3 separate regions of the Homo sapiens genome follow, and regions 1 and 2 are each linked to region 3. The links come from fine-mapping of genetic effects on gene expression. A gene starts in region 3. Each other region holds a variant in brackets. All regions are shown on one strand. Distances are from middle to middle. Region 1 overlaps LOC124902645 (a long non-coding RNA gene). Region 2 overlaps LOC124902645 (a long non-coding RNA gene). Region 3 holds the start of ANO5 (anoctamin 5).

The links.
Region 1: its variant is fine-mapped to the expression of ANO5 in whole blood (TOPMed, PIP above 0.99).
Region 2: its variant is fine-mapped to the expression of ANO5 in whole blood (TOPMed, PIP above 0.99).

Annotation. Positions count from the first base shown.
Region 1 is chr11:22,154,686-22,157,491 of GRCh38, reverse strand. The region is part of intron 1 of LOC124902645 (a long non-coding RNA gene); the gene reads left to right. Among named protein-coding and RNA genes, the nearest start is that of ANO5, 37 kb to the left of the region's middle. The variant G/A (reference allele first, on the strand shown) is at 1,274.
Region 2 is chr11:22,162,268-22,165,073 of GRCh38, reverse strand. All of the region lies in intron 1 of LOC124902645 (a long non-coding RNA gene), which reads left to right. Among named protein-coding and RNA genes, the nearest start is that of ANO5, 29 kb to the left of the region's middle. The variant C/T (reference allele first, on the strand shown) is at 1,530.
Region 3 is chr11:22,191,894-22,194,545 of GRCh38, reverse strand. ANO5 (anoctamin 5) reads right to left here and starts at 1,461. Exons shown (of 22, transcript NM_213599.3): 1 at 1,014-1,461. The coding sequence starts at 1,053. RefSeq lists enhancers at 644-833, 1,084-1,173, 1,824-1,893, 1,924-1,983, 2,214-2,303 and a silencer at 1,594-1,643.

The DNA.
Region 1 (2,806 bases), 37 kb after region 3:
AAAATAGTATTCTCTGTACTCTGAAAGAGCCAAGAGAACCAGATCCAGACCCAGTTCTGCAGTTTACTTACCATGGTGAGGCCTGGGCAAATGAGTGCCCCCTCTAGACCTTACGTTTCCTACTTGTGAAATATAAGTGAGAGGAGTGGCCTCATTGCTATATAGAGCTCTAGTCAATTCTGACTGTGGATCCCTCACTCTCCTGTATAGAGTCATGTTATGCCAATATTACCTGCAAACTGCCAAATGGGCCAGGTAATAAAGACTAACAAATATAATGCTATTTATGAATTACCCTGAGGATCAGTTCAGATTAAAAAAGTGGAACAGTAAATCCCACAGAGCTGAACACTGGAGAAGAAAAGTTGTTAACTTGGTGGCCTCTGCTGCTACTGTGCCTTCTTGAGGGAAATCTTAACTGATGGAGAAGGGAGTGGAAGAAGGAACCTGAGAAGGTGAATAAGAAACCAGGCTAGTAGGCTGCAGCTGCCGTCTGCTTGCACCAGTGCTGCCTGAGAAGTTTAGAAAAGCCACCTTCTCAGCTACATCTGGAAGCAGCACGGTCTTCTTGAGAATTTCAGGTAGCCAAAGAACTCTGAACGAAGACTTAGAAGACCGGTTTCATGTCTATTAATAATAAAAATAACAGCTTTACCATCAATTGATCACTTAATTGTGCAACAGGACAAAAGCCTTTTGCAACATGATCTCATTTCATGTGTACAGCAACCCTGTAAAGTGAACATTTTTAGTAACTCTATTTTAGAGACAAGAAAACCAAGATTCCCAAAAGTATTAGTGATTTTCCCAAGTTCAGCCAGCTAAATAGCTTTGTATTAGGTGCAGAACTTAATAGCTATTATTTGGGGAAGGGGTGAGAAGAGTATGTTTATCACATGTGTTGTTTATACCTCCTTACACTCTCTGAAAATCCTTTTAATATTTAATGATAAAATCAGATGATGAATTATATCGAAATAGCAGTGAAGGTGGGGAAAAAGTATCAAAAGGGTAACAATTTGAAGTTTCTGTGAAAATGGAGAGGAAAAGACTTCTTGATGTGGAAGTTTGGGAAGTTCCACAAGCTGATTTCTTAGGCACTTGTAAGACTCAGATTTTATTCCCCTAGGTACATTTACAATTCAGTATCTTCTTTTCTTGGTTAAGGTCCTCACACCAGTCCCAGTAAGTAGAGGGTAGCTCTCTTTCACTTCAGCAATTTGTCCTATGATGTGGAAGGGCTTTGCTTATGGAGTCTTCTTAATGCTTCAGG[G/A]AAGAGAAGTAGCCACAAATGCTCTGAAGAGATAAAGCGGTTTTCCGCCTAAGTGTATTTGAGGCAGGATTTCTGCCCACAATTACGCTTCTCCCTTCCACTGCCTTCATTTCACTTTGATTAAAGGGATTGAAATAATCTGGGTCTTCACCAAGTCCCAGTTAAAAAAAGAAATTCATAGGTGGTGGTGGGTGGTGACTAGTGCTATAACTAAGTCTTTAAGTAAGTATCTTAAGCTACCTTTCCCAAAATGGATTCCAGGAAATAGTAGTCTCACAAGTTTCACTCCAAACTGAAGGCTCTTTGTTCAAATTCCTTTTGGAAATGCTGCAGTCTTTGCTGATGTCAACAAGAGGCTACTAGCACTTACAGCCAGACAATTCTTTGTTTTCTGCAATTATCCCCAAATATTGCACGTTATTTAGCATCCATGTTCTCTGGACTTTAAATGCAAGTAAAGGTTCTCATCATCATGATAATCAAAATTGACTTAATACATTTATAAGTGATTTATATGATTTGGCTCTGCCCCCCTACCCCCTCAAATCTCATCTTGAATTGTAGCTCCCACAATCCCCACATGTCGTGGGAGGAACCTGGTGGGAGGTAATTGAATCATGGGGGCGGGTTCTTCCCCATGCTGTTCTCATGATAGTGAATAAGTCTCATGAGATCTGATGGTTTTAAAAAAGGCAGTTCCCCTGCACAGGCTCTCCTGCCTGCTGCTATGTAAGATGTGCCTTTACTCCTCCTTCGCCTTCCACCATGATTGTGAGGCCTCCACAGCCATGTGGAACTGTGAGTTAATTAAAACGTTTTATAAAAAAGTAAATTACCCAGCCTTGGGTATGTCTTTATTAGCAGTGTGAAAACAGACTAATACTATGATCCTTGGAGGATGGTACCAAACCTCATTGAGAACTACTGTAGCTATCGCCTTATGCAAATTCCCAGAACACTTGTCATGTTGGTATATTAAAGACTCAGGGAAGAATCTGTTTTCACTATATTGTTTTGTTTTAACTTTTAATCTCCTAGGTATCAGTGCAGGTTTGTTACATAGGTATACTTATATCACAGGATTTTGTTGTACAGATTATTTAATCAGCCAGGTATTAAGACTGGTACCCACTAGTTGTTTCTACCATATTGTTATTCGATTCAGCATATCCTAAAAAATTATAGAGCCTCTTACCCCCTCTCTCTTGTTTTTCTTTAGGATACCAAGTGATATCCCATGAAATTCCCTTTGGAAAATACTACTTTAGCAAGAAGGATGAGGAAGGGGATATTAGAAAGAGCAGAGACATTAACGATTGCCTAATATCTGAAGCCCACTATTTACCCCATGAGACAGATATGGCCCACTTGGCCCTGAGGACTTTTCAAATTTTTGCTTTAGACATGATTACCATTCATGATCTTTCAAGCCGCTGGGACCTAATCATTTATTTCTCTTTGAGAGGTGTCTGGCTAGCTGGCTTGGATATATTAGTTATTGTATTTAATGTTGTTAGTAATTCATTATACAGT
Region 2 (2,806 bases), 30 kb after region 3:
GCCATAGCTTGTGGCCAGAAGGAGGTAACCCTGTCCATCCCTGACTCCTTGGAGAAAGGATGACTAGATGCCCTGTGTTTGTTTGGATCCTTCCAAGACTCTGCCTTGTGTGTCTTCCTTTGTCTGGTTCTAATTTGTATATTTTCCTTTTAATAAAAGTGACCTTGAGTATAATAACTTTCAGTGAGTTCTGTGAGTCTTTCTAACAAATTATTGAGCCCAAGAATGATTCTGGGGATGATTCTGGGAGCCTCCCAAACTTGTCTGTTTCAAAAGTCTTGGGCAGACTTGGCAGTCTAGAGGACTGTGACCTTAACTTTGCAGTCTAGCTAACTCTAAGTGGTACAAAACCAAATAAAACTTATGAATGTCCCTCTTGATTATTTAGATGACTTTGGGCTCTATGCATATCTGTTTTGTATTCTAAGTGAAGGTTTTTGTGTCTTTCACATGTGGTTCTGCCATTCCAAAAGCCTTGTTACTTTCTTCTGACGTCTCACCTCCAAAACAATGCTCCTTAGAGAGGCTTAGCAGTGAAATTACAAGATCTTATTCCTAGGCCGGGCGCGGTGGCTCATGCCTGTAATCCCAGCACTTTGGCAGGCCGAGGTGGGTGGATCACCTGAGGTCAGGAATTCAAGACCAGCCTGAACATAGTGAAACCCCATCTGTACTAAAAATACAAAATTAGCTGGGCGTGGTGGTGCATGCCTGCAATCACAAGTACTTGGGAGGCTGAGGCAGAAGAATTGCTTGCAGTGAGCGAAGATCACACCATTGCACTCCAGCCTGGGCAATAAGAGCGAAAATCTGTGTCAAAAAAAAAAAAAAAAAGGAAAAAAAAAGATCTCATTCTTAACAATAGCATTCTGGAAATAATAGTATTTCTGAGTGTATCAGTCAATGTCCAATCAGAAGACAAAAACTACATGGTAATTTGAATGGGAAAAATTTAAAGAATTATTAATTATAAAAAGGGATTGGCACAATAAGGGTTTGGTTCTTAAGAAGTAAAGAGAATTCTAAGGAATACGGGAGTAGCAAATATAAAGAGCAGCCAGTACCTCCCAGACTGAGATAGGCTGAGATACAGCAGCCAAGGAAGATCCACTCCCAGCTCCCAGGCTGAGACCCAGATCTTTTGGGAGAAGGCTCTGCTATGGTTCATTGGATGGCAGAGAAATTGCTGTGGCACCTCACTAGTGGAAACTGCTGGAAATCTGCCCTCTAGAAACTTACAGAAAATCTACACTCTAGAGACTGGAAAAAGTTGTTCACAGAAGTTGTCTTGCCTGAGGCATTCCAATACAAAATTGCCTGGTTGAGCGGATGGCAGGGGAAGCTGCTGCCTACTGGGTGCTCCTGATAACTGTCTGCTGCAGGAGCTAGGCTCTGGGGAAGCTGTACTTGGTACAGGAACTGGGCACTAGAGAAGCAGTTCACTGAAACAGCTGGGCATGGGAGAAGTTGTGTGGGCTGCAGAGGGCTTCTGAGCCAGCTCATCAGAACCAGAAAGGAAAATCCTTCTT[C/T]GGCAATGTGTCTCTAGTGCCCTCTGTTACACAATGAGGAAGTGAGGCAGGGACTAGATCTGAAATCTTCCAGTCCAGTGTAGTATCATTGTTTTTTTTTTTTAACCACAAGATCATGCAACTTCAAACCGCTGTTAAAAAAAAAAATGAGTTATCTTCTGGAACAATTTTCTCTTTTTTAAAGTGACAACAACAACAATGACTATATTTTCAGGGCAGAAACTATGTGCTCACAAAACCCAGTGAAGACAGTAATATTATCTCCATGTTACAGATAAAGAAAGTAAGACTCAGGGAGGTTAAGTGATTTACTTAATGTCACACAATAAGTAGCAGAGCAGTTTGCCTAGTTCCAAAACCTGACTCTTAGCCTTACATAAGGTAAATCATATACTTATTATTTACAGCCAAGAATTTCTTACATAGGTAAGAAATGGGAATGTTCCTAGGATTAGAAAAAAAAGGAGACAATTATGGTAGGGAGTGACAATTATAAAGTAAGAGATACACCAGCATGGGTTGGCTGATTACTTGTCTACATGGCTGGCTGGGGGAAGTATGTTGTTGGGTGGAGAGGTTGTGGATTGGCGTAAGTTGAGGGAACGCTGGCACTTGGCAGCTGAACAGAAGCTGAGGGCAATGAGAGCAGGGCTGGAGGAGGATTGCAGGAGATAGAAGGCCTTTATGCACCGTCCTTGCCTTTTTCACAGCTTGCTTAATCTACAGTACACAAAATCAACTGAATGGTAGTGTCTTCTCTCCTTTTTGCCTTATTTCTTTAACTACATACTATAAATTTTATGGTTTTTGTTTTGTTTTGTTTTGTTTTGTTTTGTTTGAGGCAGAGTCTCACTCTGTCACCCAGGCTGGAGTGCAGTGGGATGATCTCGTCTCACTGCAACCTCTGCCTCCTGGGTTCAAGTGATTCTCCTGCCTCTGCCTCCAGAGTAGCTGGCATTATAGTTGCCTGCCACCACGCCCCGCTAATTTTTTTGTATTTTTAGTAGGGATGGGGTTTCACCATGTTGGCCAGGCTTGTTTTGAACTCCTGACCTCAAGTGATCCACCCTCCTTGGCCTCCCAAAGTGCTGGGATTACAGCCGTGAGCCACTTTGTGCCCAGCCTATAAATTTTATGTTTAAATTTAAGGTTGGGTAGCTACATAATTTAAAGGAGGGCAAGGTATAGATTTTGAGCAATCACTCTAGTTTTATAATGCCACCCCCAATCCGATTCTTAATGCAAGCATGCGGAACCTTTGCCAAGTACTTCAGAGT
Region 3 (2,652 bases):
TTATGATGATAGTTACAAAACTCTGTAAATACACTAAAAAAAATCCAACTTTACACGTCAAATAGGTGAATTTTACAGTATATAGATTATATCTCAATAAAGCTGCTTAAAAAAGGGAACGAGGAGGATGCAGTAACACACGGTATTTCCCGGTGCCTTTGAAGACTGAATAGTAATGATCAGATCTTTTGTCACTTTGGAAAACTGTTTCTGTGTTTAAATCCAACACTAAACAAGACATGAAAATAAAATATCATTGAAGGAACTGGGGTCCTGGAGATAGCAGCAAAATAGTATGTGCATTTTAAGGAAAATACATGTATTAAAATAGGTCCACGGAATACAGGTGGTGTAAAGGCTTTGGCAAACAATGGATAAATATTTCTCAACGGAACTAAAGGGCTTAATGAAAGCTGTTGAAAAGCAACAGCAGCAGCAGCAGCAGCAGCTTTTCCAAGTGCCTATGGCTCTCAGTATCTCAAACTGATAGATTTTAGGATCTGCTACTCCTACAATTAACAAGCATCTCAAAGCATGATAAGTAACGGGCAGAGAGAGTGAGGTAATAAGACTCAAGGACCAGCTCCTTACACGTGGGATAGCTGTCTTGCACTCTATACTGCTGCTTTTTTTGGGAAAGCCTTCGTTTCCATTGGCTGGGTTCGGAGACCCAAGCACTGCAGCGCTAGCCTAGCAGCCCTGAATTACTCGGCGGTTCCCAGGCCTGCAGGGGAGCAAGGAGGGTGTTCCGGAACCATAGGGGTCACAGGTCGCAGGTCCCTGGCGCGCAGGAGCAGCAGAGAAATCTGTGGGGCGCCGAAACCAACCCCACTCACCCCAGGCGGGGGACTCTGCCCCGCAGTCCCGGTTTCGCGCTGAGCACGCCACGCAGCGAACCTCCCTAGGACTCAGGCCGCAGGGCCGCCAACGTCCCCCGGGGCCTCTGCGCCGCGGGTGGAGGGGTGCAGGCAGCCAGCCTGGCTCTCCCTTGACGCCTCTTGGCGCGGTCCTACCTTCCTCCGCCAACACTTCCAGGAGATCCGGGTCGCCCATCTTCGCCAGCTCGTTAATGGCACTGGTGCCTGAGAGGCAGCAGGAGAGGGGCAGCTGAGACAGACGTGGAGATCTGAGGCAGGTGCTGAATCTGACTGTGGGCCGCCGGAGTTGCTGCTGCTGGACTTCTAAGGGCCTGCTCTTCCTTCTGCAGGCCTCCTTCTCCTCCTCCTCGGACTCCACCGTCTCTGGGCGCCACAGCCAGCCGGCCTTCCTCTCCGGCGGGTACTTCCACTCGACCCGGTCCCCCACAACCTGCTTCGCGCGCTTGGCCCTGCGCTTCCCCACCCTCAGCCGGTAGCGCTCCTGGGCGCTCTCCCAGTACTTCTCCAGGCACCTGTCCCTGTGCCTGCTCGGCAGCTGATCCCGCAGCCGCCACTCCTCCCGGTGCTCGCCAGGATCCTTTCCACTCCTGCCCTCTGGCAGCTTTCCTTTCCCCTTCGCTGCGTCCCTGTTTCCACGCCTCTTTCCCCGCCTCCAGACCGCAAGACCGGCCGGCGCCCCACCCTCGGAGACCGCCATCTCCCCGCCCCCCGGCCCGGCTGGCTCCACGCTGGCCCCCTCCTCTCCGCTCAAGCCGTCCCCAGGTCCCTGCTCTGCCGCCTCCCGCACCTCCTCCGGACATGCAGCCTCCCGTCCCTCCTCGGGACCCGCCGCCCCCCGGCCCTGTTGGCCGGCCTGCTCCATTCTGTACAGGCTTCGCACGTCCTTTTCCACTGGGTCCACCCACGACCAGGAATCCTGGTTCCCCAGGGCTGCCGCTTCCCTCCTGTCGGAATCCTCCTCCTCCGATCCCCAAAGGGGGTCCCGATGCTCCCTCAGCCGGTTGGCCGGGTCTTCATCGATCCGCTCATGCGTGCCACTCGGAGAGAACCCCTCTCCCAGTTGGGAGTTACTTTTGGTCTCGTGGGGAAAAGTCCCTCTCCCTTAAAGGAACCCCTCCCTTTTAAGGCCGGCTCATGGCCCGAGACTCCAAGGTGCCAGCAGCCCCTTCCCCATAGCGTCTGGAGCGGGAGTATTGACTTTTCTCCTGGCCCTGCCTGCTTCCTGGGTTCCCAGCAGGATCTCTGCCCTCTACAGGTGGGGGAAGGTCATCCCTTGTGGCCTGAGTTCCAAGTCAGCCTCTGCCCCTTAAGAGTTGGATAGTGTGGGGCAAGTTTCTCTAAGTTTCAGTTTCCACATATTTAAAGGAGAATGATAATAGTACCCACCTCCTAGGCTGTTGAGAGAAGCACGGTGCACAGTCCTTGCCACAGAATGTGTTAAACATTTAGCTGCTATTAAGATTAACCCATATTATAGTCCAGCTGGGATGACGCCTGTCATCATCTCAGCTGGACGATATCGCTTGAAAGCTCAGGAGTTCAAGACTAGCCTGGGCAACATAGGGATACCCCTGTCTCTACAAAAAATTGGAAAATAGCCAGTCATGGTGGCAGGCACCTGTGGTCCCAGCTACTCGGGAGGCTGAGGTGGGAAGATCGCTTGAGCCCAGAAGATTGAGACTACATAGAGCCACAATCATCCCGCTGCACTCCAGCCTAAGTGATGGAGAGCAAGACCCTGTCTCAAAAGAAAGTAAAGAAAAGAAAAAAAGAA